Homo sapiens: one gene and its partners. The protein of the gene in region 4 purifies or fractionates together with the protein of the main gene of each other region. This does not show direct contact. Each region holds a gene or a part of one and is shown on either strand. Other genes may lie near its edges. The genes, in order: TESK2, CDK5RAP2, SIPA1L1, DCLK1, RASAL2, G3BP2 and KIF1C.

Region 1 (4,507 bases), on a different chromosome or scaffold from region 4:
AGGCAGGTAAGAACATAAGTGAACAAGTTTTATAAATGACCAATAAACAAAAGGACTTCACTAACAATCAGAGTACAAAAATTAAAATGAATTAACAAGTCAGGAAGTTGAAGCAGGAAGATTGCTTGCGGCCAGGAGTTTGACCAGCCTAGGCAACACAGAGAGGGACCCCATCTTAAGAAAAAGCCTGGGCACGGTGGCTAACGCCTATAACCCAGCATTTTGGACTTTGGGAGGCAGGTGCAGGAGGACTGACCAGGCCCAGGAGTTCAAGACAAGCCTGGGCAACATAGCAAGACCCTGTCTCAAAAAAAGAAGAAAAAAAAAAAGCTGAGTGCAGTGGCTCATGCCTATAATGCCAGCACTTTGGGAGACTGAAGCAGGAGGATCATTTGAGTCCAGAAATTCAAGATCAGCCTGGGCAACAGAGCAAGACTCCATCTGTACAAAACACTTTAAAATTACCTGACGTGACAGTAACATGCCTGTAATCCCAGCTACTTGGGAGGCTGGGATGGGAGAGTCACTTGAGTCCAGGAGGATGCAGTCAGCTATGATCACGCCACTGCACTGCCGCCTGGATGACAAAGTGAGATCCTGTCTCTAAGAAAAGAAAAAAAAGAGGCTGGACATGGTGGTGCACACCTGTAATCCCAGCACTTTGGGAGGCAGAGGCAGGCTGATCACCTGAGCCCAGGAGTTCAACACCAGCCTTAACATGGTGAAACCACAACTCTACAAAAAAAAATACAAAAATTAGCCAGGTATGATGCTGTGTGTCTGTAGTCCCAGCTACTCGGGAGGCTGAAGTGGGAGGATCACTTGAGTCTGGGAGGTCAAGGCTGCAGTGAGATAGCACCACTGTACTCCAGCCTAGGTAACAGAATGAGACCCTGTCTCAAAAAAAAAAAAAAAAAAAAAAGAGAGAGAGAGAGATAAACCCTCTCTAACATGGTTAATTGACTGTGACATGAAGGGTGCCAAAACCATTCAATGGGGAAAGGACAGTCTTTTCAACAAATGGTGCTTGTAAAATTTGGTATCCTCAAGCAAAAGAATGAAATTGGACCCTTACTTTATACGATATTGAAAAATTAACTTAAAATGATCAATAACCTAAATGTAAGAGCTAAAACTATAAAACTCTTAGAAGAAAACATTGTGGAAAATCTTCATGATATTGGATTTGGTGATGATTCCTTGGATTGACACAAAAAGCAAAAGGTAACAAAAGAAAAAATTAATTTGACTTAATCAGAATTTAAAATTTCTGTGCAAAAAAGGACACCATCATGGGAGTGAAAAGACAAACTACAAATTGTGAGAAAATATTTGCAAATCATATATCTGGTAAGGGATAAATATTCCCTATATATAAAATATATAAATACAATGCAATTCAAAAATGAGCAAAGGATTCAAATACACATTTCTCCAAGAAGATATACAAAAAAGGTCAACAAGTACATGAAAAGATGCTCAATATCACTAGTTGTTTAGAAAAATGCAAATCAAAACCACAATGAGATACCACTTTTCACACCAAATAGGATGATTACCATGAAAAAGAAAAATAAGTGTCAGTGAGCACATGGAGAAACTGGAACCCTTACATATTGCTGATAGAACTGTAAAATGGCACAACCACTACGGAAAACAGTCTGGTGGGTCCTCAAAAAGTTAAACATAGATTGACTAAGTGAAATAAGGCAGTCAAAAAAAGACAAATACTGTATGTTTTCACTTACATAAGATATCTAGGGTAGTCAAACTCTTAGAAATAAAGTAGGATAGTGGTTGCCAGGGGTTGGGGGGAATGGAGAAATGAGGAGTTGTTTAATGGGTACAGAGTTTCAGTTTTGCAAAATGAAAAAGTTCTGGAGTTTGGAGGCACAACCATGTGTACATACTTAACAGTTGTGTTAAGTATGTACTTAACATAATTAAATACTGTTAAGATAGTAAGAAAAAGATTTATTTTTTATTTTTTTATTATTTTATTTTATTTTATTTTTCCCCCAGAGACAGAGTTTCGTCATGTTGCCCAGGCTGGTCTCAAACTCCTGGGCTCAGGCAATTCTCCCGTCTTGGCCTCTCAAAGTGCTGGGATTACAGGCGTCAACCACAATGCCCAGCCAAAATGGTAAATTTTGTATGTATTTTACCATAATCTTTTCTTAAACATAGAATTACTCATATGACTCAGCAATTCTATTTACAGCTAAATACCCAAAAGAATTGCAAGCAAAGAACCAAATAGATACCTGTATATCAATATCCATAGCAGCATTAGTCACAATAGCCAAAAGGTGGAAACAGCCCCACCATCGACAGATAAAATATGACATATATACACAATGCAATATTAGCCATAAAAAGGAATGAAATTCTAATATATGCTACAACATGAATAACCCTGAAAACACTATGCTAAGTGAATTAACTCTAACACAAATGGATAAATATTATATTAACCCACTTATATAAGGTACCTAGAATAAGCAAATTCATAAAAACAGCAAGTAGAAGATATTAGTGGGTGGGAGTGAAACTGCCCCCACAGGGTTCACAAGAAGTGCATGCCAGGTTCTGGACAGAAATATAGTTATAATTAAGCATTAATCAGGCCGCACTTTGGCCCACTTCCTGGTTGCTAAAAGTCATATAGCACTAGATACTGACTATTTGCATTCCTATTGTTCCTACAGAATAGGATTTCTGACATTAGGGTCATAAAACTTTAAGATTTTATTTCTATCCCCATCTTTCCTATAACAGGATCTCTGACATTATAATCATAAGGCTTTTGTTTAAGGATTGCTTAATATGTTTTTCAGACCCCTGAATTCCAGCAACCAGTTTGAAGTCCCCCACAGAGGAACGGGATCTGCAAGAGAATACAGCTTCTTCATCTCCCTGTCCCATGACTTCATCCTGTACTCTTTAACAAATAAACAATTGCCACACTTCGGCCCACTTCAAAACCCTTAAAAAACCTTAGCCCCCATCTCTTACGGGAGATGAATTTGAGGTTTTCCTCCATCTCCTCATTTGGCGGCCCTATGATTAGACCTTTCTCTGCTGCAACCTGGAGTCTCAGCTTATTGACTTGCTGTGTGCATTGGGCAATGAACCCATTTACAGTTACAGAAGGGAGAATTAGTGAGTTAACGTTTCATGGGTACAGAGATTCTGTTTAGGTGATGAGAAAGTTCTGGAAAAGGATAATGGAGATGGTTGTACAACATTGTAAATGTAATTAATGACACTGAACTGTACACTTAAAAAATGGCTAAGATGGTAAATTTATGTTATATATATTTTACTGCAATAAAAAGTATTTTAGAGAAAGACACATTAGAAAGAAAGAAGCTGGAAATGGTACATAGAGACAACTCTATGGAGTTGTTTTGGTCCAAAAAAAAACAAGACATGGGAAAGTATACCTATTAATAAAAGAAACAATAGGGGCTGGGTGTGGTGGCTCTTACCTGTAATCCCAACACTTTGGGAGGCCGAGGCAGGCTGATCACTTGAGCCCAGGAGTTCAAGAACAGCCTGGGCAACAAGGTGAAACCCCAACTCTCCAAAAAATACAAAAATTAGCTGGGCATGGTGTCATGCACCTGTAGTCCCAGTTACTCTGGAGGCTGAGGTGGGGGGATCATCTGAGTCCAGGGAGGTCAAGACTGCAGTAAGCCATGATCACACCACACTGCACTCTAGCCTGGGTGACAGAGCGAAACCCTGTCTCAAAAAATAAAATAAAATAAAATAAAATAATAGAATAAAATAGGTTGGGCGCGGTGGCTCATGCCTATAATCCCAGCACTTTGGGAGGCTGAGGTAGGTGGATCACTTGAGGTCAGGAGTTCAAGACCAGCCTGGCCGAAATGGTGAAACTCTGTCTCTACTAAAAATACAAAAATTAGCCAGGTGTGGTGGCAGGCGCCTGTAATCCCAGCTACTAGGGAGGCTGAGGCAGGAGAATTGCTTGAACCCGGGAAGCAGAGGTTGCAGTGAGCCAAGATTATGCCACTGCACCCCAGCCTGGGCAACAGAGTGAGACTCCATCTCAAAAAAAATAAAAATAAAATAAAATAAAGGGGAAATAACAGAGCCAAAATATTTGGGTTTTTTTTTTCCTTAAAAGAATTTTTTTAACATGTTAATGGTAATACTTAGTAGTGAAAATACAATGTAGAAAAGAGAGGGGAGAATTTCTTAGGCAATGCCTATTAGTAGGCAAGTGGAAATGGAATGTACAATATAAACAGAAATAATGGACTTAGGAGCATGAGTAGTTGATCCATAGTACAAGGTATAAAGGCCAAGTAACTGGGTAAAGATGTGTGTTGATAGCTATTTGTAGTAATGGAAGTCTGCAGAAGTTCTCTTCTGCTTGCTTCAATTTTCTCAGTGAATTGGGAAGCAATTCATTAATTACTGACAATGAGGACTAGTGAGGAAATACTGGGATTTGATGAGAGAAGAAAAGGTACAAAAT
Region 2 (4,507 bases), on a different chromosome or scaffold from region 4:
CACATTCAGGGAGAAGCCTGAGGTGGAAGCACGGTCCCCTGTGGGTCTGGGGAACAGTCAAGAGGCCAATAGGCTGGAGCTCAATAAACAAAGGGGGATAGCAGGACTGGAGGTGAGAGAGGTAAACAGGGACAGACTGTATACGGTTTTTAGGCTCTTCTAAGGACTCTGAGGAGCTGCTGGAAGGTTTGCAGCTAAGGAGTAAGATGATTCGACTTAGGTTTCTACAGGCTCCCTCTGGCTGCCTTTCTGAGAACAGACTGTAAGGGGCTTAGGAGAGAAACAGGGAAACCAGTTAGGAGAATATTGGGATAATCTAGGCCGCAGATCATGGTGGGTTGGAGTAGGATGGAAGGAGTATAGGTGGGTGAGAACTAGTCTGATTCCGATACTTTAAAAGTAGCCAACAGGAATAAATGAAATGAGATGAGATGAAGTGAAATACACAATGTTGAGAGAGGAAAGTACACCTTAGTCAGCCTGGGGAGAGCCAAAAAGGGTGGTGAGCTTTGAGCTGAGTCTTAAAGAGGGAGCAAGGAGGCACCGGGCAGATGAGAAACAAAAGGAAGGAGAGACAGCCCAGGCAAAAGCACAGAGGTGGGAGTGGGCATGGTGTTCGGAAACCACTTAGCAGAAAAGAGGCTAAGGAGTGGGCAGGGCAGACTGTGAAGGGCACGCTAGTTTGTTTTCCTGTTCCTCAAACGGGCCATGCCCTCACCTGTGTCTGGGATGCTCATCCCCTCCTTTTTCCTTACCTACATCTGACTTATTCAGGTCTCCGCTCCAATATCAATTTCTTGGGAAACTCTAGCCTGACCCACCTCCACACCAGAGGAAATCTCCCTTTAATCCCCTCTCACAGCACTTGATACATCTTTGCTCCTGACACTGACCATACAAATTCTCATAAGGGTTTGTCTGTCTTCTCAGCTTAACAGTAACCACATTTGAGGTTGAATTTTAGCACTGAGCCCAGAGTCTGGCATGAAGCAAATGTATACTATCGGCTAAATTAAGAAATAGGCTGGCCAGGCACAGTGGCTCATGCCTGTAAACCCAGCACTTTGGGAGGCTGCGGCGGGTGGATCACCTGAGGTCAGAAGTTCGAGACCAGCCTGGCCAACATGGTGAACTCTGTCTCTACTAAAAATACAAAAATTAGCTGGGTGTGGTGGCACGTGCCTGTAATCCCAGCTACTCGGGAGGCTGAGGCAGAAGAATTGCTTGAACCCACGAGGCGGAGGTTGCAGTGAGCCGAGATCACACCACTGCACTCCAGCCTGGGCAACAGAGCGAGACTCCATCTCAAATCAGACTTGTTGGATTTTGCATTTAAAGTAAAAGTTGCCAATGAGTGCAGTGGCTCATGCCTGTAATCCCAGCACTTCGGGAAGCTGAGGCAGGTGGATCACTTGAGTCCAGGAATTCGAGACCAGACTGGGCAACATGGCAAAACCGTCCTGCAAAAAATACAAAAATTAGCCAGGTGTCGTGGCACACGCCTGTAGTCCCAGATACTAGGGAGACTGAGATGGAGAATTGCTTGAGTCCAAGAGGTCAAGGCTGCAGTGTGCGTGATCGCACCTCTGCACTCCCAGCCTGGGTGACAGGACAAGACCATGTCTCAAAAAAATAAAAAGTAAAAATAAAGTAAAAGTTAATAGGTTCCTCAGGAAAACATGAAGGTGCCCTGTAAGTTAAGGGATTTTCCAGAAATAAACCGTGGGACTCTTTTCCTGTCTGCTCCAAAATCTCCCTCCTCTTGCACATATCTCAGCACTGTGGAGAAGAGAAAAAAAAGAACAAGTCAAAATATCTTAGAGATATTTTGCAAAAACTAGCACTACCCACAGAGACGCTTAAGCATTCACTTTTTTCAGAAATAAAAATTATGAAGAATGCTTAGCTAGACCCAAACTGCAAAGTCTCCTCATAATCCAGCTTAAACACAGTACGCTACTTATTTACTCAGAGCCGTCTCCTGTGGTCTAACCAGCTATTTGTCTCCAAAGGGCAGGCCCGTGTAGGAATGCGGGGCCTCAGCCGGCAAACAGGATCCAGCAGCCTGCCAGGAAGGCCTTGGCACGCTACAGTCCAGATGGCAGCTCTCCTGGGCCTCCAGCCACTGGCCTAGCTGCCAATTCAATGTCCAGCCTCCGTGCAGTTGTTCAGTTCAGCAAACGCTCACTGAATCCCTATAGCTTTAGTAGCAACAAATGAAACTCATGAAGTATGGCCAAAAGGACAACAATTCCTCTAGTCCAGTGTTTATGAAAGGAGGTGGAAAGCAAATCAATACATACAAAAAATACTGAGCACCTACGGTGTGCCAGTTCAGGGAAGCCTCTGGGCCCCAGAGATATGAAAGCTCAAGATGCTCACAGTCCAATGTCTACTTTCCTTGTTCTTTACTCAAGAGAATGCCTGGTTTTGTGTACTTACGACCATTTCCCAACCCAGCATTGGGGTTGATGCCATCCAGGTCATCTGGTACACTGGGAACAAGGCCACTAGGAGAGAACACATGAGATAAGAGATGAGCTAATGTTTGAACAACAGAGACTGTTAAGACGGTCTGGACTGCACATGACAATCATCCCATGGCCAGGAGGGATGCACACAGCTGGGCTACCTATGTGGCATGAAGCACAGAGGTTAAGAACTCAGGCTTTGGGGCTGAGTTCCAGCTCCAACACTTGATAGCTGAGTGACCTTCAGTAACATCATTCATTCAGTCATACATCAAATGTTCTGTGTGCCAAATATGTGCTAGTGGCAGAGGCACTGTGACAAGTACAAGATACTTATGTTTCTGAGTCTCACCCTCTTAATCTGGTACATGAGGATACCATGCCCTCCCTGTAAAAATTAAATTCGTTCATGTATATAAACACAAAGCACATAGTAAGTATTCAGTAAACGGCAACTATTGTTGTTGTTACTATTATCATTATGACTACTAATATGCCTATCACCACCTCTGGGAATCAGACACCAATTTAGATGTTTTAAGAATGTCAAACAATGCAAAATTCACTGATCCAAGAAGTTGTCTTGGTTGAATTACATAAATAAATTCAGTGAGGATCTGGAGACACTGACAGAAAACTAACCCATAATAGGAGGTGTGGTGTGACACAAAAGACACTACCCTGATCTATTCTAAGCTCTGCCATGTATCTCTCTGAGCCTCACTTTCTTTAGCTGTAAAATGAGTACAGCAGCTACCTCACAGAGTAACTGGCAATTAAACAAGATATTGCAAGGTACCTTGTGGGTACTCCACAAATGGGAGCAAAATATCATGTCGCCTTGAAACCTACAGTGCTTTACAATTTATAAAAGATTTACCATCATTAGAATTGCCTAATTCCCTGAGGGTGCACACATTTTTCAAAGGAAGGCCCCAAGGCCCAGACAATTTTACTGTCCTAGCCAGGGTCACATGGCGGTTCTGTGGAGAGCCAGGTCCAGAAGCCAGGTCTTTTATGTCCAACTCCCACGAATACTTCCCTATCCCACACTGTAAAGTAGGAGTTGATGGAAACAGCTTGACTTCTTGGCAATTTGCTCTTTCCATGCCTCTAAATCCAAATTCATTGTGCTCCTAGGATAATTTTGCCTGACCACCAAACTTTGGAGTTGGAATGTACCTTCAAGATCAAAAACAGGCAAAAAATTGGAAATATCATAAAATTCCAACATTAAGAAAATGATCACAAAAAAATGTGTCCGGGCTGGGTGCAGTGACTCATGCCTATAATCCCAGTATTTTGGGAGGCCAAGGCTGGTGCATCACTTGAGATCAGGAGTTCGAGACCAGCCTGGCCAACATGGTAAAACCCCATCTCTAATAAAAATACAAAAATTAGCCGGGCATTGTGGCAGGTGCCTGTAGTCCTAGCTACTTGAGAGGCTGAGGCAGGAGAATCACTTGAACCCAGGAGGCAGAGGTTGAAGTGAGCTGAGATCATGCCACTGCACTCAAGCCTGGGTGATAGAGTGAGACTCCATCTCAAAAAAAAAAAAAATTTAAAAAAAAAAGTGTCCCCTGTAAAGGTAAATGAAAAAACGTAAACAGAATATGTCCTCAATTATGAAAACAAATATATACAGTACATAAATACTGAAGTCACCTCAAGTCCATTTTGGAAATAGGTGGGCTACAGATATATAACAAGACAAAGGAAATATACTGAAATATTAAAAATCATCATTAGTAGGGAAATGAGAGGTTTTCTTCCTTTTTAATGTTATATAATTCTCAATTTCCTCCAATAAACATCACTAAAAGGACAAAGTCAATTTTCTAAACTGAATTTTAAAAACTAAAATCAAGTTCAACCATCACCTTTTGCAGATGGTGGTCCAGAAGCCCAAGGTCACATACACCAGGTTATTGGCCAAGCTCAGCCTAAGGTCTGGTCCTGCATTCTCAATCTGGGGTTCTCTCCGGGTACCAGAGCCATTACATTAACTCCCACTGGCTAAAACTGCCCATGAATAA
Region 3 (4,507 bases), on a different chromosome or scaffold from region 4:
TATAATCTCAAATATATATGTGTGTATATATGTGTGTATATATGTGTGTGTGTGTACATATATATATATATATATATATATATATATATTTTTTTTTTTTTTTTTTTTTTTTACTCTCCCACTCAAAGAAAAGATTAGAAAGGAAGTGGCCCTTATGTCAAAGGTACTTCTCTCTTCAGTGCCTTTTCTACTCAAAGACCGAGATTTGATTCTTGGCACTGAGACTTATTGGCTCTGTGACTTTTGTCAAATAATGTAATTTGTTTTCACAATACTTCCTGTAAATGGACAGGAATATATTATAATTACCACCTACTGATGACAACATTGAAGCAGCAAAGAAATGATTCCTGTACTTACTGTGGAAGTGATAAAAAATGAAAGTAGCATTAAAACTGTTTTGCAATCCTTAAACAACAGCTATATTTCAAATATTTTCAACTTGGTATATTTATCCCTAAAGGTGACACAGCAAATCTACTGTACAACAAAGACTATAATTTCAATCGCTAAGTCAAAGGGGCTTTTTATTTGTAAAAGTACTATTTAACATACAAGACATTTATATATCTGAAAGGAGAAAGTAACTCAAAAAATGCAAAAAGAAATAAATTGAGCAAATGGTTATTTAGCTATTTTACCATCAAGAAAGATAAGACATGCAAATCTTATGTCACATTGTTAATAAATATCTTAATATACAGTACTTTTCTTCAGAAAGTACTGCAAAAGAAAATGTAAGAAATAAAGGATCTCTACTTACCCTTCTGGTAGAAAAATTTTCTATAATAGTATGCACCCAGATCTACGTGTTCCACGATGTATCTTTTCACTCTATCTAGGTGCAACACCAAGTTCTCCTTGGGCACTTCAAGTACTGCCACTCCTGCATTTGTGCAATGGGAACTAAGGGTAGACTCAAAGGAGGCACTTTCACATCCACTAAAGGAGCCAGAATTTGATTTTGAAAGGCTGATTTTCCTCTCCCCTTCTCCACCTATCTCATTCCGAAAATATGGACAGCTCATTACAAGCTCATTGCTTTTATCATCTCCCTGGTCCATGCTGAGGCTTCCTTTGGAATTCAGGTCCTCTGTGCTGCCCATTGGGGAGCTAAAACTGGCTGAATGAGACAGAGGTCCAGAGACCAAGGATGCCACGGCAGCTGCGGAAGCTCCAGTGGTGGTGTTTCTCCTCTTAATAACATTGTGCCTGTTCATAATTGCCTCATTCAAATCAAATAATATACTCTGGACATCATAGTGGGCAAAGCACTTTGGACATGTCCAGGGCCTGACAGAGTCTTCTGATCGGTTATCTTCAAGATCTGATGACTTCCCAAGTTCTTCACCTTTGGCATTGCGCAATTTACGAAAAATAGATGAGTCTCCAGTTTCAGATTTTGAACGTCGCTTGAGTGGTTTTTCCCTTTCCTTAAAAAGCCTGAGGTTCTCTCTCTGTGAGATAGGCCCGTCTATTACATCCAAAGAGAAACCAGAACCCTTGCCACCACCAGTAATGAGAAAGTCACTGAGCTTGGTTGGAGTTGGACCTCGATCAGATTTGTCATCTTTGTAGCCCTTTAACAAATCAAAAAAGCTTTCTCCAGATGTTCCCTGTTTATCAATTGAAGATGTGCTACCATATTCCCTGTGCAGTGATGGTCCAGTCTTGTATGTAGGTGAGATACATTCATCAAAGCTATCCACATCAAGTTCACTTATGGTGATATCACTGTTGCTTCGCTGGCGTATTCTGCGAAGAGCTTTTCTGGGGGAGCTGGGGTAGGCTTCAGGCATGAGAAATCTGGAGTCCATGTTCTCCGACGGTCTTGTCTTGTTTTTCAGCGTGTTCTGTATGCTTTTCAGCATGGCTGAGTCATTGGAATTGAGGCTAACAGAACTTCCCTGACTCACAGGACTGCTTTTGGAGGACAGGCTATCAAGGCAACTTGAGGTTTCTATTTCCTGGCTTGAACGGCTAGATTCTTTTATGTTTTCCTTTCTTGGGGGCCAATCTGCAATCCTTGCCCTTACCCCCATTTTTGGGACTCCGGGGGTTGAGGTTATATGGTGAGAACCTTCACTTCGGGGGGGTCCTACAGGAGCCATAACTGATGATCCTAAGCTGCCATTTTGGGACCGGAAGCGCCGCATGTAGAAATCATCAGTGTGGACTTTGGGGGTGCCGTCTGTGCCAACAACAGAGGCCCTGTCAGTGGCAAGAGGCCTTTCTGTCTGTGACCGTTTCAAGCTGGTCATGATGTAAAAGCAAGTAGACTTAAATCCCTGCAGCAAGGACCATCATATCTGTGTTTTAAATGTGCACTTCCCTTTTGGAGAATGGCTTCCAGAAAATACAACAGTTGCATGAGATCTTAATCTTTTTCATTTAAAAGGTTAAATGATGCTTTATTTGTAAAGCACTGAAAAATTGGAACTTCTAAACGTTATAATCCACAACAGTTTCTTTGCTTCACTTTAACAGAGGGCTTTCTTTCAGAAAAAACTGAATGGAACTTGTACTACTGAGATTCTGTGGTTGCCATAATCCCATGCTTTCTCTAAAAGAGAAAAGGATAATTTGAATTAGCAGATAAATACATCTAAAAACAAACATGCAATTGTCAAAACCAGACACATGAAGATAAAAGACTCAATAATGGATTAGGATTCACAGTTCCACAATCCGTATTTTTAGTAAAGCAGGTTTGAAAGAAAGGAAGAAAGTAAAAACCATTTGATAAAATCCATAATTTATATTCTAAAAAAAAAAACTATTAAGACTTCATCTTAATTGAACTGTTTCATAAAATGGGGGGCAGGGGGAGGGGTACATCTTGTTCTGGATATCATGGCTCCTACCCAAAGTACAGACTTTTGCTCCAATGACCTCTAAAAATGTAGAACATCATGAGCTACTGTGATGACCAGAAGTTTGAGATGTAACCAAGTGAATAAGATAATTAGAGCAACAGAGTTTTTTGACAAAAGTAAAAACTGAAAAATGACTTTACTGAATATGCTGCAACAATCACTTTTTAACTCCTCTATTCCAAAATCAATACATGTTTTTTGTTTCCTTACAAAGGCTTAACATAGTTGGCAAAAACAAATACAGCAGGAAAAAATAAATAAAAAGAGTTTTCCCAGAGCCATTATATCCATTAGCACTCTTTTGTATTTTCCTCTACTTTATTACTTACCGAGACGAGGATATTGCAGAATGAATCCAGCATTCACCACCACCTCTTCCCAAGCTCTCCTTAGTTTCTTGTACTCTTAAAAGCTAGAAGTATCTCACTAATGAACAAAATGCCTGCATTTCCTCATGCAGTACAACCTACTCCACCCCATCAGTGCTAATTTATGAAGACGGCAGAAACAAAACACAGCTCTGGGTGGCCCTCTCCATATCCCCAACAGATTACAGAGAACTGTTAGCATCCTTCCAGGTGACGGGCATGGAAACAAACTTCCTCATGAGCACGTCAGGCAGAAGGCAGGAGACACAGATTCTGAGTACAAAATTCTGCATGGTTGCGTACATTCTGAAAAGAAAGGCAGAGGCTCCTTTTCCAAGACTCCACAAATTACACAAGAGGTGGCCTTTAAATTCTTGCCAAATACATGTTTGGAAAGATGCTGCTGAACCAGCACTGAGCTGACAGGGCGGCATTGTCTACAAATCACGGCTCTGACACCGGAGGACGACCTGCACTTGCTGCACTCTCCACTCAATGGTAACAAGCACCTACTTCCACGATAATTAAGCATCTCCCTAGTCGGCTTCCTGCCTCCAAGGCAGGCGCTTTCATTTCTCTTGCAGCACACAGCATCACTTTAGAAGACTCGCTGCTATTTAAAGGCTGGAACATGTAGGGGTGTTTCAAAAAAAAAAAAAAAAAATGCATGCTGCCTGCAGAATGCAGGGTGAGGCGAGCTCTGGCTGGGCTCGTGCTGGCTGAGTCTGTGGAGCCATTCAGATAAATGCCATTTGTTTTCACTAGCACTCCTCTTCACCATCTTTTGTAAAAGGGATAATAGTTTTGCACTGCTACCTAATTAAACATGGCTTTTGAGCTTTCTAGATACTTCTACTGTCAGACTGCTATTATTCCCTTTACATTCCAGAACTTTACATGTTCCTCTTTCAATGATAACCCTTCAAGTGACAAAACATGCTAACTGTTGCTTCCGAGGATATCAAAGGACAGCATATATGGCCATAGCAAAGGTTCAAGAAGTGATTCTCATAAAATGGAAGGAAAATTGAACAACTGAACCAAAATGCAAACACCTGTTCAACATCTCCCCAAAAGCTGATTATTTCAATGAATACTCTACATAGCATAAATAATACTTCTAAAGTAGATTTTATAAAAATTAGATGCTTTCAACATTTCTCACAACCTCACAGAAATCCAAATAAATCATCTTTCATTCCCCAAACATTCATTCTCTAAAAGGACAACACACCAATCCCACCATGATAAAAACTCTTGCCA
Region 4 (4,507 bases):
GTAGCTGGGACTACATATGTGAGCCACCATGATTGGCCCTGTCTTGTTATTTTTAAATGGCACTTAACACACATACCTCATGTCAATACTTGAATGCACTCTAAAAATGATTATTTTAACAAGATTATAACTTATCTCTTAACTCTCAGTCACACTAAGGAAGAGATTGAACACTGGATATCTAGAGCTACTTGACCAAATCAAAACTATGTATTCTTCCCATTCAGAACAATCACGTTTGTTAATTTATAATAATCGATGATAATTAGCCCATGAATTGAAAAGCTATTTTTTACAAAATCAGAAAATACAACCAACTTTAATTTAACTGCATTAAGGCGGGAACCACATCTCTTGTGGCAGAGAGAAGTTCAGTGTTATGATTACTGTAAAAATAGTTAATACATAGATTTAAAAAGATTTAATGGAAATTTCTTTTCATGATAAAATGGAAATGTATTAGCATAAGGAAATCAATGGAAATTTATTAGCATAAGGAAATCCATCTGGGCCTTTCCTGAATTCCTGAATAGTGTCACAGACTCTAAATGACTGTGGTGTGTGATCTTGGATTTGGTGGCAGCTCCTTCTCCTTCCTTTAGCTGTTGCTTTCCTGTTAGCACAGTATCATCTGTTACTGGAGTCTCACATCCTTCTCTAAGATTCTCATTCCAGTCTTTAAATCTGATTATCCAGCAGAGGAGCCTCACATTTACAGCTCAGATTAAACACATATTTCTTCTGATCATTGTTGCTTGAACCAAACCAGCAACGCCTTCTCAGTGTAACTGGAGAACTTTCTTATGCTTTTAAACATTTTCAGGGTGCTTTATCTAAGAAGATATTTTTAAAAAGTGTTTATTTTCTCTTTTAACAAACTCACTCCATGTTGCTATGTTCTTTAAAACTGCTCCCTCTTCTAATTTAATATATTTTTAAAGTTTTTGTTGAAATGTAAACTGCTCTCTGTATCTTTGTTTTGCTTTTAGTTATTAGCTTAGTATAGAAACTTATAAATAATCAGACAATTGCATATCTTCAGTTAGCACAGAATTCTGACAGAGGCTAGCTTTGCCAGCTCAGTTACATGCTGTGTGTCTCACTGGGGAGTGTTAGGGCATTCTCACATTGACATGGACCCAACGTGGTGTCCACTGGTAACTGTTCAATATAAGACCTGCTTACCGATTTCTAGTAATTTTGTTTTTGAATTTTTCTTTCAGGCTTACTGCACGATTAGGGTATGTAGCCTCAGGTCATTTTCACTCACATAGCAGGTTTGTATTTGAGATCACTTTGATCTCTATCTTCTAATTTGATCTTCAGAAAAACCTAATGAGGTTTTGTTTTATAGATAAATAAACTACCACCCAGAAATCTGAGGGACTTGTCCAAAGTCACATGCTTGGAGAGGCCAGGTCTTGAGCCCGAATTTCCAGTTCTCTCTTCCCACTATCATGTGCAGGTCATCACTCCATGAAAACTCCCAAAACACTGCTGTTTCTATAGTACCCAAATATGCCTTTCTCAGGATTTAAGAAAATATCAAAAATACATATAAGTTTTTGATATTTACTTAAATCCTGAGGAAGGCATAGCTGAGACAAGTCATGATCTGCCAGGTGAATAGAAATGGGGTTGGTTAAACTTGCACTATTCATACAACTTCTAGTGAGGCATAATGTGTATGTATACACATTAGAGAATATTTTAAGAACATCTGCAAAACAAGTGTTCAGTAACATGTATAACTGCTCTTTTTAACTTTTGAAGGCCTGCTTCAGTTATTTTTATGTGACTACTTATTCTTTGGCCTTGGATGCTTGCACTGTGAATTTAAAAATAATACAAGGACTTAGATAAAAGTCAATGGGCTGTGTTAGATTAGGCCTCGGTCATTTTACCTACAATTATGAAGGTCTTTCAGCATTTTTACCTATTCCTAGTTACAAAAACTTATTAACACAGAAAAAAAGCCATTACAAAATCTTTAATTTCAAAAGGCTTTGACCTAACTTTATGAAATATGTATTTAGAATTCGTCATTTTACAATTTGTTGTCTCTTGGTTCATGTTTTTCTTTTTTGTGTGTGTGATCTACATCTACTTAATAGTCTGATTATTTTCATTAAAAGATTTCCTGCTAAGGAGTCACTTTTAATAAACATTTACTTATATTTATTTTAGAGCCCATTTTTGAAGCTGTAGTTTGTATGTTGAACACTTCTAAAACCTCTTACTTATGAACAAGTATGAATTGACCTTATAGTATGTGTGGATCACTGTGATTGGCACTATATAGATGAGAGAAAGGAAGGGTGATTATTTGCTTGCTTTTGGAACTTTACTGGGCTTTACAAAATCTTTAGCATCAACTCTCATCAAATTCGTAAATTATATGACTATTTTAAGATGCTGTATTCTGATTCATTCTTAGTGTTTAAATTATCTCAGGTAGCAAATGGAGGTACTTCCAATTTTGAAATTTTCTGCAGATTTAAGTATCTCTAATTCCCAAAGAATATTTTCTATTTTAAATTCACTTTCACACTTCTCTAAGGTCTTTTCAAGTAGATCAGCATTTCTATCACCGACCTTAAGATGAGGAAATGGAGGAATAATGTTTTGTTTTGTTTTTCCAGGATGTGGATCTGTTGCTGACAGTGCCAGATTAGCAATCAGAAATCTTTCTTTTTCCCTAATTATTAATCACACTTCCATTGTTTGAAAAGTCAGGGCTAGCTCTTGCCCCTAAGCAGAAAAGGCAAAAGAGAGGATAAGTAGGAAAAAAGAAATGGGCATATTTTAGTATAAATTTAAATATATTTCTCTCTTCCTTAGGAGAGAGTTATGTATGTGGCTCCATAGAGCCCTTCAAGAAACTGGAGTACACCAAGAATGTGAACCCCAACTGGTCGGTGAACGTCAAGACCACCTCGGCTTCTCGGGCAGTGTCTTCACTGGCCACTGCCAAAGGAAGCCCTTCAGAGGTGCGAGAGAATAAGGATTTCATTCGGCCCAAGCTGGTCACCATCATCAGAAGTGGCGTGAAGCCACGGAAAGCTGTCAGGATTCTGCTGAACAAGAAAACGGCTCATTCCTTTGAGCAGGTCCTCACCGATATCACCGATGCCATCAAGCTGGACTCGGGAGTGGTGAAACGCCTGTACACGTTGGATGGGAAACAGGTAAGAGACATATTGTGATGTGACTTTGACTTTAAGGCAAGAACCAGGGAGTCGGAGGGTGTACGTGGCTAAAGCATACATTTTGCTCAAGTTGTTAAAGGGCCTGGGTCACTTGATCAACAAATATGTACTTGCTGGCCCTAGAACAGTCAGAAGTTTGAGTTGAGCAGGATTATTCATAGGAATAAAGTAAGAAAAAAATGCATATCTTTGAAGATTAAATAATTACTCAGTGATTTCTACTTGTTCATTTATTATTTGCTTAACATAATGATTCTTTTCTGTCATCTGTTTTCAGTTTTCTCATAGATCTTATAGCCTGAAGAATGAATGACTGAGGTGTGAAAGTAAACTCTGACCAGTAGGGAAAATTCTAACTTATTTCTTTGACCTAAATATTTTATGATTTTAAGTCTTTGTAGTGTTCGCTAGTGAGATTTACTTACATTTTATAGATTTTAAAATATGTATCTAAGAAATGACATATTTCCATCTGGATAGCTTTAAAGGCATATTTCTAGAATAGTACGCATCTTGTATTTTTCAGTGTTAAAATGAAAGGGAGGTTTTTCAGCTACAGAATGAACATCAGTTGACTTGGATGGGTGGTCATTTTAATGTGAGTTGGTCAGATGAACCCAAAGGAAGCATCACCTTTTATTGTCTTGGGTGGACTATTTTTGTACAGGTTTGACAGAACCTTGATGGTGAGTTGAATTAAAAAACATTGATTAGGGCCGGGCACGGTGGCTCACGCCTGTAATCCCAGCACTTTGGGAGGCCGAGGCAGGCGGATCACGAGGTCAGGAGATCGAGACCATCCTGGCTAACAGGGTGAAACCCCGTCTCTACTCAAAATAAAAAAAAAAAATTACCTGGGTGTGGTGGTGGGCGCCTGTAGTCCCAGCTACTCAGGGGGCTGAGGCAGGAGAATGGCGTGAACCCGGGAGGCGGAGCTTGCAGTGAGCCGAGATCGCACCACTGCACTCCAGCCTGGGTGACAGAACAAGATTCCGTCTCAAAAAAAAAAAAAAAAAAAAATTGATTATATGTACAGCATGATTTGCTAGTCATTCAGAGTTTACCAGATTATACTTTTGAGCACACTATCTTTGCTGGAAGTTTAGTTTTTAATGTGGTGCTATCAAAATGCTTTTTTAAAAAATTTTTTTTGAGGGATAATTTGAATGATTTGTATGTATAGTAAATATTAAAATTAAAATGATCCATGAATTAAAAGATTGATCTTATTAAATAGAAGACTCCTCCAAGTTCTTAAAGGCTAGCGCATTCAAACTTTCTGAATTAGAAATAGATGC
Region 5 (4,507 bases), on a different chromosome or scaffold from region 4:
GGCTTCCGGTCAAGCGTATAGGCACATCAAGCATGACAGATGCATGCTCCACTTGAGCAGCATGAGTGTCCTGGAGGTCCATGAGGGAGACGCTCCGACCATTAGGAAGGCTACTTTCCCTTTCATCCTTTTCAGAATAAGTCATGCTCTGAGAGGAGGCTTGCTGAACCAGCAATAATGTTTTCCCTCTGAAGTAGCTGTCTGTGTTGTCCTGGCTTGGAGATTTTAGTTTATGCAAATCACTGTGGAAAAGGAAAGGACACTTAATTTCTCTTGAGACAACTTCAACATGGCTAAGATGCCTCAATTCAGGCATATGAACTCCTCCGAAGGTTCTTATGTGGATACGTACATTTCTTTGGAAACTCAGATTTTATCTAATTAGGGAATTATTACAATGCTTAGAATAAAATCCAGCATTTTTACTTTTTCCCCAAAGGTACAGAATAACACTGTAGATACCAACCCATCACTGTCTTCAGTTTTAACCAGGATTCCAATAATTTCCTAGTTAGGTTTTAAACCTTCCCCAAATATTCCAATTCATACTTACTTGTCTAAACCTTCAAGAGAAGAAGTTCTAAGCACACAACTGAAAGGTCCCTGCAAAAGGCACAAGTCTTGCCAATCCCTAAAACAGTCTAAGCATCGACATTGTATCTACCTGTCCAGTTGACATAGCCAGCTATAAAATGGTTTTAACCGAGGTTCTCCAAGATTTTGAATGCTATAACGTACAGAAACATGAATTTCATAAAGCCTTTAGTCTTCCACTAAGCAAGACAGAAATTTTAAAAATATGCTTGTGGAATATATTGTAACTCTCTATACTACCATTCTAGAAAATAAGTCATCCCAGATCTTGTGCATTATTATGACAAATAATTGGACTGCTCTCAGGTCAGATGAGTCTTCAGTTGCTCATGATTTTAAACTTGTAAATTCAACAAATAGGTTGAATATACTTCTGCTAAATCTAAACATTATGTTTCTCCGAGATAGTGGTCAAATTCTCTCTTTCATACCTGTCAGTGGGGTCTTCAAATATTTTCTGCAGCCCAGAGGAGAGGCTTCCACTGACATTTGGACTGGAGTTATGTTCAGTGAAGCGTCTCAGTTGCTGTTGTATTGGCGTAGGATTAGTCAATGACTTGGTAATATCAGCAAGAACACGAGGGAGAGGCCCCAATTTTGCCACGGTCGCCTGTAGGAAGGAATTTTCACCCTAATTGGATAATAAGCATTGCGACATCCACCACAGATTGTTTTTGGCACAACGATGGCCATTGATGGAGGGGTGTAGGTTGGAGGGAAGGGTAAGTGTTTGCATATGGGAGTGGCAGGTTCATAATGCATTGTTATGGAGCAGCAGAACCATGGCGTCGAGATGAATGGAGGAGGCGAAACAAGGTGCGGCAGACATCGAGGAAAGAAAGGAAATCGAAATCAGGATTATGCAAGTAAAAATTAAAAGACATGCTCAAAACTACCAAACTAATGCCATTCCAACTAAAATAGGCATGCGAAGCAAACTAAATCTTTGGGAGGCTAGTAGATCAAGGTGGGGGAGGGTGGAGGCAGAACCAAATTCCTTCTAACCAAAAGAACTTCAAGATCAGAGGATCAACTAGTATGATAAACTTTCAAAGAAAAGGGATCATGTGAGAAAAGAAATGCATGCCAACATATAAGAAGGTGCTCATTCAGGAATCCAGAGTACTGCAGGGCACACAGATGATACTGCCATCCACTATCCCAGTCAATCTTGGGAACCCTGACCCACTGCCAACTGAGTTTCCATCAGTAAGACAATTTTTATTGTTAATTTAACAGCAAAATCAGGTAAACTTCCTCTATGAGATATGTCTAGATGTATTCCTGGTTCCCAGGACCAAACACAGATTAAAAAGGAGAAAGTGTGTTTACATAGCAAAGCCCGTTAAAAAGACTTTGATCCTGAATAAACCAGGCCCATTTCACAGGAAAACTGAATCTGCATTCCACTGAGATGCAGTTATTCAACAAAGACGAACTCTTTAATACTTGCTTTATCCATTTCAATCATTTTTTTATTTAGGGAATTCTTATTCTCATGGGGTCTTAGGGGTCCCCTTCAACTGTCAGTCAGTTTGGCATAGCTGCCTTTGGGTCTTTGCCTTCTCAACAATCAACAGACTCTTCTACCCTACTCAAACAGGGATAGATGCCACCAAGGCCTTTACTTGCTCAATAATGTTGGGCTACGATTCACATGAAAAGGGTTTATCTTTGGCATAGCTGCAACTTAAAAATCTAGCTAGCATTTCTAAAAGTGAAGAAAAGGTCCTCGAGAATAAGGAACAGTTTATTGTTTTACAAATATTTTAAGCACTGGAGGACACATTACCACATATGTTTCCTCAGCAAAGTGGTCTTTGTTAATAGGTTTTATTCCCCTTCAAATTTTACTGATATAGCATTTTTATTGATAGGAAAATAGAGGAAAATAAGTAGATCATTATCATAGAAAAATGACTGTCTTTTGAAGTTATTCTAACATACCACCACACATATTTATAAAGTGCCTGTAGCAAACAAAAACATCAATAAATAATTATTGTAATAAGCCTAGCCAACGTCTTTTAGACTATTTTTTACTACCAAATCTATTCCTTTTTGTTAAATTCCAGAAGGAAGAAAATGATTGGCATGGTGTATATTTACTTATTAATACGGTATATAATAAAATTCTTAGCAAACGATTAAAAATAATTGCTTTCTGTATTCTTAATTCACATCTGTAAAGAAAGAAAACAATGACTGTTAGCACTAATAATTATATGAAACTCTATGACTTGTATAGTAAAAAAATTTGTTTCATGGGTAGTTACTTAAAACATGATAAACCTAGTATTTTCTTAGCTAAATCTATACTTTTATTAGAAATTACTATATGAGGTTTCATCTTATCCTATTAGACATGCATAAGGCTGTATATACCAATATATTAGTTTCTAGTCAAGTTTTCAGATATGCACTCTGTATATATAAATTTAGAGAAATATACTCCATTAATTCAGATAATTATTAAAAACATATATTAATAATGTCATGGTTTTCTAGAGTTTCATGGTTGTCGATCTCATATTTTACTCAGAAATGATGACCATTTACTCTCAGATTTCTAGGGTAAACAGTTGCTTTCAATTAGCAGAAAGAGTGAGTGCTATCACTCTATAGTTACTTTCCAGAATTCAGGTACATTAAAGTTCTCTATCTTCCACCAACCTACTTTACCTTATCAAGTTGGGAAACTACTTCCCACAGTAAGGAATGCAAAACTGAAAGCTCTCGGCCCAGATCAATGTAACCATCAAAGCCTGGGGTGTTTGAGATGGTGTCTGGATTAGAGATCTCCAAAAGAAAGCGCTTCATTCCACCCCATTCATGTTCTAAAAAATCATTCATGAATGCCATGTATTCCTCTTTGTTACCAAACCTGAAGTAGAGGATGAGAAAATGAGAAAGAACATATTCAAGAGAGATATGATCATTTTGATTTGACATTACACAGAACTATTACTTTTTTTTATTTTGTGGAGGGAATGACTAATTTTGTTTATTATCTATAAGTGATAAATGTTATAACATACTTTCTTAATATCACTTTAATATTCTAATGCTTTGAGAATAGCTTTCTATTCTCTCTAAAGGGTAAAGCCAAAACTCCTTTTTTTTTTTTTTTTTTTAGTTCTGGGATTTAAATTTCTCTGCAATATAGCCCTCACTTACCTACCAAAAGCTCACCAGTACAAACCTTCAATACTGCTAGCTTCTACAAAGTCTCCCAAATATATTACACATTTTTTTCTTCTCCAAGCTTTTGCCCATGCTATTTACTTGCACTAGAGAAAAACTTCTCTCCTTTGCCTATCTAGATTCTAGCTATCTGCAGGGCCTAGTTTAAGTCCATAAAACCTGTTCCAAAATAAAATATAAATATTTTTAGCTCAAATATCGATAAATATGTATATTTCTGCATTGGCTTATATATAAATTATACAAAATTAAAATAGTACACCTCTAAAAAGCCACCACTTATACTAGAAAACAATCTGTTCACTGAAGTTCCAATTTTTTTCTTCAATACATTGCTAACAGAAACTTGTCTTTAAGCATCAATACTGAGTAAATCTGTGGTCAGTTCTGTAAATGTGAATTCCTTCCCAGCCATTTCTTAAATTTATTTTCTATAAATTATAAAAATATCATAAACTTACTGAAAAAAGTTTGAAACAATGAAAAGTAGAAAGAAAAAAGTGTGGATGTATCATTCAAGCTACCCAAATATATCTGCTGTTTATATTTTAGTACATTTCCTTCCCAACTGTTTTCTCCTAATTTTCTTTTGAAAAATTTTAAACCTACAGAAAAGTTGAAAGAATATACAATGAATACCCATATGCCTTTCATCTACAATAACCAACTGTTATATTTGCCAAGTTTGCTTTCACACCCTCTCTTTCTA
Region 6 (4,507 bases), on a different chromosome or scaffold from region 4:
TCCCAAAGGAATGGTAAAACAAAATCAAGATTTACTGAGAGAACAGTGTTTCAACTAATTACATCAGTTACTTCTTTAACCATAACTCCGATTTGAAGTGACTCAGAATTTAGAGAGCCAAAATATAATTGATAGAAATCAACCAGAAAATGACTACTAGAGATCAACCATCAAACAACGTGGTTTGGGTATTGCAGGAAATAAGACTATGAAAATTGAGTAAGTAATATAAAGTTCGTATTTATAATTCATGCAGTGTACGTAAGAAGGTTGAGAAAAAGGAAAAAAGCCAAATTACACTTTCAGAATAAAAGTGATTACAAGAAGAAAGAATTGTGCCATTTTTATTATTCATAGCAAATCATCTTACAGGTAATCCATTTCTAGATCTGGGACCTTCCATTTCTTAAAAAAAGTTAACAAAACGAAACAAAATTCTGAATATGGGAGTAAAAGGTTTCAACTATCTTATCCATGGCCATGAAAAACTCATGACCTTACTGGATCTCGATTTCCTAGTTTACAAATTGAGAAGAAATCCCCGGTCAAGCCTACAAGACTATACAGTTCTACAAAGATAGCCAAGAAGGCCTGGTGCAGTGGCTCACACCTGTAATCCCAATATTTTGGGAGGCCAAAGTGGGTGAATCGCTTGAGCTCAGGTGTTTGAGACCAGCCCAGGCAACATGGCAAAACCCCGTCTCTACTAAAAAATACAAAAAATTAGCGGGGCGTGGTAGTGTGCAAGCGTAGCTCCAGCTACTCGGGAAGCTGAGGTGGGAGGAATGCCTGAGCCCGGGAAGTCAAGGCTGCAGCGAGCCAAGATGGCACCACCGCACTCAAACCTGGGTAACAGGAGTGAGACACTGTTTAAAAAAAAAAAAAAAAAGATAGCCAAGATTAAAGGATACTTATACACAAAAAGAAATCTTTAGAAAGTTCTTAGATTAGCACCTTCAAAGATAACTACCATCTTCAATAAGGTGGTTGTTAGCCTCACCTAACAACCTTTTTAGAAAAAGTTAAATACAATATATCACACTCCACTTCTTCCAATGACACCTGAAAATGTGAAGAATCTCACACAGGAATGCACAGTGTAAAATTTTATCTGATACATTAGCTCTATACACAGTCAAAGCTCTCTCATGAACAAATCCGTCTTTTACTTGTCAAATGAAAACATTATCCAAGGCCAGGCGCAGTGGCTCATGCCTACTTCCCAGCACTTTGGGAGGCAATGGCAGGAGGATCACAAGGTCAGGAGATCGAGACCATCCTGGCTAACACAGTGAAAGCCCGTCTCTACTAAAAATACAAAAAATTAGCCAGGCCTGGTGGTACGCGCCTATAGTCCCAGCTACTCAGGAGGCTAAGGCAGCAGAATTGCTTGAACTCAGAGGCAAAGGTTGCAGTAAGCTGAGATCACACCCTTGCACTTCAGCCTGGGCAACAAGAGCGAAACTCTGTCTCAAAAAACAAAAAACCGAAAACATTATCCAGTATAGTTTAGAGGCTTTTTACTCTCCAACTCTGCCTATCGCACCTAAAATCCCAGTGAATCTTCATCAGAATATTTTATTCATTCCTGTTTCTTAAAATGTTTCCTCTGCATTTGCCTAATTCCTGAAGCACATGCACTTCAGCTCTCACGGAAAATTGCTCTATATTTGTCACCATATTTTCTGAATCTATTAATTATACACATTGAGAGAGAGTGGAGTATTGGTAGATAATACACACTGAGAGGGAGTGGAGCATTGGTAGACATACATGCAGATTAGAAAAGAAAGTCACATTGAGCTTCATTATCCTACAATGAACTTATATTTCCTCAGTTTCAAAATAACGTAAAAACCAAAGTTATCACTCTCCTTTCCTCAAACTTTGACTAAAACGTCACCTTTTAGGTAAGAAACATTTAGGTTTTTTGTTTACCATTTAAAGTTCAGTGAATCACTACTATAATGGGGCTGCCTCCAAAACAATCAATCTTAGGCTACATTAATTTAGATGTAATATCTAAAATGAGTTGATTGCTAATTGAATATAGTGAATGGAAATTATAAGAAGGTAGATTTGGGTGAAACATAACACAAGAATAACGCGAGTTGTCCAAATATCAAATAGAGCTACTTAACAAGTAGCCAGTCACTACAGGTATTCCAGAGACTAACTGAATGGTTTGGCACAAACATAGTAGAGTCCATACATCCAAAAAAGTAAGATTAGGCCATTCCAACACTAAGATCCTAAAAGTCTGTTAACAAGAAGCAGGACTTTTGACTTCTCCTCCAATACTCATCTCACACCTTCCTATCTGCAATGATTGAAACCCTATGCATTTATCTGGGCCCAGCAGAAATCCTGTCCCCTTGAAAATCTTTCTACTCCTACTGAATTCCTCAACAGAATATAACTCTTCTCTATTAACTCTTAAAGCACTTTTGGCCTTTATCATAGCAGTTTATTGATCATGCTCTGCCCTAAATTACTAACTGTACACCTGTCTTCATCTTCTATTCCCCTCTCAAATATTATAACTCAGCTCTCCTTTGAATGCAATTCTCTGGAAACATCACAATTCTTCTCAATAATCGAATGACTTCTCAATCCTCCACCCATCTGCATTATCAATGTTGACTACCTCCTCCTAACTCTTCTAGAGTTCTATAAGGCAAATTTTCCTTCTCATCCAAACGCAGAATTTCTCAAGGTTCTGTCTTCTAACCTGGCAATTTCAGCTTCTGGTCTCATGTCTACCTAAACGTGTATCTAGTCTATACCATAAGTTCAAATTTTACATTTGTCACCACATACTGAACACCTAGACATGACCCACATATGTCCCAATACACGCATGCACCAAAGAAAGCTATTTCCTTATTTCTGTTAAAAGTGTCATAATCTTCTCAACTTGAAAGCTCAGTCGTGACTTTCTCCCCTTTAGCTTTGCCACTTAAACTGTGAAATCCTTACAATTCAGAAGGTGGAATTTGTGCCCTCCTTTTCACTCCCACTGTTCAGACCTTTTATTCTTCAAAAGTCTTTCAAGCCCCTGTATCACGTGTAGTATATACTGTACTGAGTAAAATCCAAACACCTGCATTCAGTTTGGCATCTAAGGCCCTACACAGAAATCCAGTCTGACATTCAATGTCATAACCAACCTTTCAAATTTATCTCCTACTATACTTTCTCATCCCTGTATCAAATTCTATACAAATATTTTAATCACCTAATATTATTCTCTGCAATTTCACTCTCTGCGCCTTTGTCTTACTTCATTCATTCCCATCCACAAGCTGAGTCAATGGGTTATACAAAATAAATTCATTTCAACATTTATTTTATGGCTACTATGTATGTACCAGAAACTACAAAAGGAAAAAGAGGCCGGGTGCAGTGGCTCACGCCTGTAATTCTAGCACTTCGGGAGGCCGAGATGGGTGGATCACCTGAGGTCAGGAGTTCGAGACCAGCCTGACCAACATGGCAAAACCCATCTCTACTAAAAACACAAAAAAGTTAGCCGTGTGCAGTGGCGGGCGCCTGTAATCCCAGCTACTCAGGAGGCTGAAGCAGGAGAATCGCTTGAACCCGGGGGCGGAGGTTGCAGTGAGCTGAGTTGTAAGTACTTGGTATTAGTTATTATAAAAAGAATAAGACCTCTAGTAATAGGAGGCAGTTCTCTTTACCAGATACTGTTACCAAAGGTTATGTGGGTGCTAAGACACAGCTTATCTCCACTATAGGATACTTACCCCTTTCCCCTCTGGAGTCCCTCACTCATAGCTGGGCTCAAACTAGTCAGGTTTATTTATTTTAATTGAACCATGGACTATATCCATTTCCAACAGCTAAATGCATATTAATACTGGAACTTTCTGAAATTCCAGATGGTTTTTGTTTGAAGTAACTTAAACAATCTAAGGAACACTATACCTTTTTAAAGAAATGACCTTCAATCTTTTGTGGTACACCATTGAATGAAAGCTTCACAAAGAAGATCTAAGAATCATAGTGGTACAAATAAATAATAAAAGTAAGTTATGGATTAAATCTCTTATTCAGGCTCCAAAAGGTGTTTTTGTTTTCTGTCCTTCTCAGAAGTTGAGGGAGGCTAGTTTTAAAATTCAGAAGCTATTAAAAGTGACCAAGCAGTAAGAAATGGAAATGCTTGCTGTCCACAAAAATAAAGCATGTATTTATACTATGTTTTAAAGTTTAACAAGTAACCTACTATTTTCTTTTGTCTTTAAAATAGATAGGGCATTATCTTCATTTACAGAAAAGGATGTTTAGAGAGCCTAAGGAAAGGTGTTTGGGGTTCCTCAGTTACAGTAAAAAGAAAGAGGATTTGAAATCAGGTCTCCTGACTCCTGACTCAACTGATGTTTTCATTACACTTTGGTTAGGAACAACCGCTTTGGAAGAGCAGCCAGCTCTTCCAACAATACAAAAAATTAATTTTAAACAAGCAATTGTTAGCTTATGTGAAACTGTT
Region 7 (4,507 bases), on a different chromosome or scaffold from region 4:
GGACTCACATGCAAAGAGGAACAAAGTGAAGAACTATGGGATTTCAAGGGGATCAGGAGGACTTAATGGAAGGGTAACATGGGAGCCAGCCTTTGAGGACAAGGAGGGCGTGGACATGCACAAGAGCGCTCCGGGTGAAAGCAGCCTGGACAGAAGCATGGAGGCAGAAAGCACAGGGTACAGAAGGGAAACAGCACGGAGTCGAACCTCTATTTCTCTGGGAGCCACTTAACACTCAGAGCCCAAAGCTGTGTCCCCCAGAGGTGTCTGTGTATCTTGTGCATCCGCCCTTCACCCAAGTGCTCCAAGGATCACTCCTGCGACACTTCTCCTGAGGGACTCCCATGCCCCTCCCTACACTGCAGTGTCAGGCCTGCTCTGGGACTGGCAAACGCTGATGGGCTCCGGAAGCAGAAAGCAATCTATCCCTGGGGAGAGGGAACACGATTTGAGGCGGTGCTTTTCAACTTTTTCTTCAGCCCTATAACTCTTTGTTCAAAATGAAACCTTCTCTAGAAGCCTAGGACATCAAGCAGATAAGCAAGAAGCTGCTCAGGCCCAGGCTGGGGGTGAGAGCCCCAGGGTCTGGTCCTGTCCCTATCCTCAGCCCCTGAGAAGGCAGCTCAGAACCAGGTTTGAACACCACTGATTTAAGCAATCCTTAGCCCTGGTGGTGGGGGTCTTAGCAAGAGGAGGCTCCCTCCAAGACAAACTGTAGTTTTTTCCTCTAAGACCCAACTATTCCCTGTTGGAGCTACTCACACCAAACCCATTTCCCCATGAGTCTAACAGTTCTCTCTTCTGGCTTTAGACCACATGGCTTTTAAACATGAGAAGAGTTCATCCTCACCACCTTGAGAAAAATGTAAAAGTGAACTACCTTAAGACACCTTCTCACCAATCACACAGGCAAAGAGAAAAGTCTTACTAAGCCAGAATGTGGGAAAGGGCGAGGGGAAATGGGCTCTCTTGTATGTTACCCTTGGGAGTATAAATTGGTATGGTTCAAAAAATTAGCCAGGAGTGGTGGTGGGCGCCTGTAGTCCCAGCTACTTGGGAGGCTGAGGCAGGAGAATGGCGTGAACCCGGGAGGCGGAGCTTGCAGTGGGCCGAGATTGCACCACTGCACTCCAGCCTGGGCAACACAGCAAGACTCCATCTCAAAAAAGTAAAATAAATTGGTATGGTTATAATCTTCAGAGGGCACTTTGGCAATATAGATTAAAAAAAAAATTTTTTTTTTTGAGACGGAGTCTCGCTCTGTCACCTGGGCTGGAGTGCAGTGGCATGATCTCGGCTCACTGCAAGCTCCGCCTCCCGGGTTCACGCCATTCTCCTGCCTCAGCCTCCCAAGTAGCTGGGACTACAGGTGCCCGCCACCACGCCCGGCTAATTTTTTCTATTTTAGTAGAGATGGGGTTTCACCTTGTTAGCCAGGATGGTCTCGATCTCCTGACCTCGTGATCCGCCCGCCTCGGCCTCCCAAAGTGCTGGGATTACAGGCGTGAGCCACCGCACCCGGCCTAGATTAAAATTTTACATGGCTACCATTTGACCCAAAATCTCCATTTCTAGGAATCTGCTCTACAGATAACACCCATTTGTAAGACTATGCATTGTAGCCTTTTTTTGTAGTATCAAGGAATGGGAAACAATCTGAATGTCCATCAGTGGGAAGCTGGTTAAATACATTATCCTACATCTACACAATAGAATACCCTGACACCGTGAAAAAAATAAAGGAAGCTTTAAAATAAGGTATGCAGGCCAAGCACAGTAGCTCACACCTGTAATACCAGCACTTCAGGAGGCCAAGGCCAGTGCATCATTTGAGGCCAGGAGTTTGAGACCAGCCTGGCCAACATGGCGAAACCCTGTCTCTACTAAAATACAAAAATTAGCCCGGCGTGGTGGTGGGTGCCTGTAATCCCAGCTACTTGGGAGGCTGAGGCATGAGAATCACTTGAACCTGGGAGGCAGAGTTTGCACTGAGCTGAGATTGTGCCACTGCACTCCAGCCTGGGCGACAGAGTGTGACTCTTGTCTCAAAATAAATAAATAAAATAGATATGCAACTACAACTATTAGAGAGGCCGTGAATGTGAGTAAATGTGTATAGTTCTATATAACATATGCCTGTACATGTGTTATAACATCTCCTAGACAGCATCTCTAGGAGAACATTTTTTCTTTTTTTTTTTTTTGAGACAGAGTCTTGTCTGTCACCCAGGCTGGAGTGCAGTGGTGCGATCTCAGCTCACTGCAACCTCTGCCTCCCGGGTTCATGTCATTCTACTGCCTCAGCCTCCCTAGTAGCTGGGACTACAGGCGCCCGCCAGCACACGTGGCTAATTTTTTGTATTTGTAGTAGAGACGGGGTTTCACTGTGTTAGCCAGGATGGTCTCAATCTCCTGACCTCGTGATCCACCCGCCTTGGCCTCCCAAAGTGCTAGGATTACAGGTGTGAGCCACCAGGCCCGACCCAAGGAGAATATAGTAAGAACCCATAATGGGCCTGGCACGGTGGCTCACACCTGTAACCCCAGCACTTTGGGACTCCGAAGTGGGTGGATCACGAGGTCAGAAGTTCAAGACCACTCCGGCCAACATAGTGAACCCCATCTCTACTAAAAATACAAAATATTAGCCGGGTGTGATGGTGTGCGCCTGTAATCCCAGCTACTTGGGAGGCTGAGGCAGAAGAATCGTATGAACCCAGGAGGCGGAGGTTGCAGTCAGCCAAGATTGCACCGTTGCACTCCAGCCCGGGTGACAGTACAAGACCCCGTCTCAAAAAAAAAAAGAACTCATAATGAAGGCTGCCTCTGAGGGGAAACTTAAGGGTGGGAAGGATGGAGAGTTACTTTTTTTTTTTTTCTATAACAAAATGCTGTAAATTGGAGACTTTTCACTGTACACACCTTTTAGAACTATTAGAATGTTCTCTCTGGTGTGTATTACCTTTATAAGAACAATTAAAACAAGAACCCCCTCCTTTGGTCCCCAGGCTTTGGCAGGTGGCATCTCTGCAAGCTCTCCAAGGAAGAAACCTCCACCCCACCAGTCTCCCCAGTCCTTTCTGCTTTTCCTCCATCCTTGCAACCGTGGTGGAAGCGGCCCAGCTCCAGGTATACAAAGGTGGCTGGAAGCCATGCTGAGCGCATCCGTAGCCCCTCTTTCCACCTAGGTGTGGCTGGGTCCCAGAAGAGTCTGGATCCCTCAGAAGGACCCCAAAGCCCCAGGGTACCCAGCCCCAGACAAGACCCCAGACACGCAGCCTGGCCTACCGCCCACAGCTCTTTCACTCCCTCAATGTGGCTTGGGCCAGGCAAGGCAAAACCCCTCTCCTCTTTTCAGAACAGGGGTTCAGTGATCCCTGCTTGCTTAGTCCCCCAGATGGACCTGACTTTACAAAACAGAGAGGAGCCTTCTTCTGGTAACCCATCACCTCTTCCAGGCAGCCCCCAGTGACACTGTCTGGCTCAGAGCACAGTGTATCTGACTTAGGGCCTGATCCTCTGCTGCTTCACACCATGGTCCAGACGGGCTGGGCTGGTTCCCTGGTGGAACTGGAAGTTCATGCTCTGCTCAAACTGGCCTCTGCACCATCCCTTCACTGGTATACTGGCCTCTGCACCATCCCTTCACTGGTATGCACCGGTACAGCGGTGCTGGCTGTCTATATCCAGTGTCCTTTCTGACTGGTCAGTCCCTATGCCGGATGGTTATTAATATTTGGAGTATCATTCCTGCCTCCACCTGAGCCTGACCTCTCCCGCCCTGCTCCTTCCTTCCTTTCAGCAAAGATTTATTAGGTACCTAAAACCTGGCGGCAGGCACGTGTCAGGCACTGGCGTGTCCCACTCACCCCAACATGTACCCCAGGCTCTTCAACCTCATGTTGGCCCTACTCCTCCATACTTCCCAAGTCCTGTCCATCTTTCAGGTTCCACTTTCCAAACCACCTTCTCCAGGAAACCAGTTGCAGCATAGCTCCAAGCTACACGGGTGCCTCCATCTATAACCAACCCCTCGCTGCACTGGCAACCACTGTCTTACAATGTAGTGCTCATGCCTCCTCTATTCCCTTTAGTCTTGTCTTCCCAAGTTATCCTTCTGAAAAATAGATTTCTTTAGTTATCTTTTTGAGCATGCACAGAATACAAAACTCAAATGATACAAAAGCATGCTCTATTGCAACCAACCTCCGATTTCCCAGGTCCTCTCCCTCTCCTGAGGCTGACTGTTGAATGGCTGAAGGGAGAAGGCAGGGATGACTAAACAAGACGGAGAGGAGGTGGCAGGGGAGGGGACAGAAATGATGGAGGGACAAGCCGGGGACCTCAAAGGGAGCGATCAGGGACAGCACTCACTACCCTGCACCTGCTGCCTCTTTTCTAGGCATCCAGAGAGCTCTCTAGGCCTCCTCGCTCGATTCCTCACTCACCTTCTTTGGAGAGAAGACGCCCACAGTTCCCCCATCCTCCCGGACGGCCACCCCCATCT

What was found.
Region 1: the proteins of DCLK1 (region 4) and TESK2 purify together in Homo sapiens (affinity purification with mass spectrometry, with the first as the bait; one large-scale study listed by BioGRID). This does not show direct contact.
Region 2: the proteins of DCLK1 (region 4) and CDK5RAP2 purify together in Homo sapiens (co-immunoprecipitation; one large-scale study listed by IntAct). This does not show direct contact.
Region 3: the proteins of DCLK1 (region 4) and SIPA1L1 purify together in Homo sapiens (affinity purification with mass spectrometry, with the first as the bait; one large-scale study listed by BioGRID). This does not show direct contact.
Region 5: the proteins of DCLK1 (region 4) and RASAL2 purify together in Homo sapiens (affinity purification with mass spectrometry, with the first as the bait; one large-scale study listed by BioGRID). This does not show direct contact.
Region 6: the proteins of DCLK1 (region 4) and G3BP2 purify together in Homo sapiens (affinity purification with mass spectrometry; one large-scale study listed by BioGRID and IntAct). This does not show direct contact.
Region 7: the proteins of DCLK1 (region 4) and KIF1C purify together in Homo sapiens (affinity purification with mass spectrometry, with the first as the bait; one large-scale study listed by BioGRID). This does not show direct contact.

What each region holds. Positions count from the first base shown.
Region 1 is NC_000001.11:45,452,442-45,456,948, forward strand, and holds part of TESK2 (dual specificity testis-specific protein kinase 2), read right to left. Parts: intron 1-4,507. UniProt on the Homo sapiens protein: Dual specificity protein kinase activity catalyzing autophosphorylation and phosphorylation of exogenous substrates on both serine/threonine and tyrosine residues. Phosphorylates cofilin at 'Ser-3'. May play an important role in spermatogenesis.
Region 2 is NC_000009.12:120,569,532-120,574,038, forward strand, and holds part of CDK5RAP2 (CDK5 regulatory subunit-associated protein 2), read right to left. Parts: intron 2,511-4,507; coding exon 2,443-2,510; intron 1-2,442. UniProt on the Homo sapiens protein: Potential regulator of CDK5 activity via its interaction with CDK5R1. Negative regulator of centriole disengagement (licensing) which maintains centriole engagement and cohesion. Involved in regulation of mitotic spindle orientation.
Region 3 is NC_000014.9:71,585,627-71,590,133, reverse strand, and holds part of SIPA1L1 (signal-induced proliferation-associated 1-like protein 1), read right to left. Parts: intron 3,837-4,507; exon of another isoform or gene 3,206-3,836; intron 2,564-3,205; 5' UTR 2,262-2,563; coding exon 764-2,261; intron 1-763.
Region 4 is NC_000013.11:36,110,550-36,115,056, reverse strand, and holds part of DCLK1 (serine/threonine-protein kinase DCLK1), read left to right. Parts: intron 1-2,841; coding exon 2,842-3,188; intron 3,189-4,507.
Region 5 is NC_000001.11:178,453,418-178,457,924, reverse strand, and holds part of RASAL2 (ras GTPase-activating protein nGAP), read right to left. Parts: intron 3,479-4,507; coding exon 3,277-3,478; intron 1,226-3,276; coding exon of another isoform or gene 1,205-1,225; coding exon 1,026-1,204; intron 243-1,025; coding exon 1-242. UniProt on the Homo sapiens protein: Inhibitory regulator of the Ras-cyclic AMP pathway.
Region 6 is NC_000004.12:75,666,417-75,670,923, forward strand, and holds part of G3BP2 (ras GTPase-activating protein-binding protein 2), read right to left. Parts: intron 1-4,507.
Region 7 is NC_000017.11:5,007,484-5,011,990, reverse strand, and holds part of KIF1C (kinesin-like protein KIF1C), read right to left. Parts: coding exon 4,449-4,507; intron 1-4,448. UniProt on the Homo sapiens protein: Motor required for the retrograde transport of Golgi vesicles to the endoplasmic reticulum. Has a microtubule plus end-directed motility.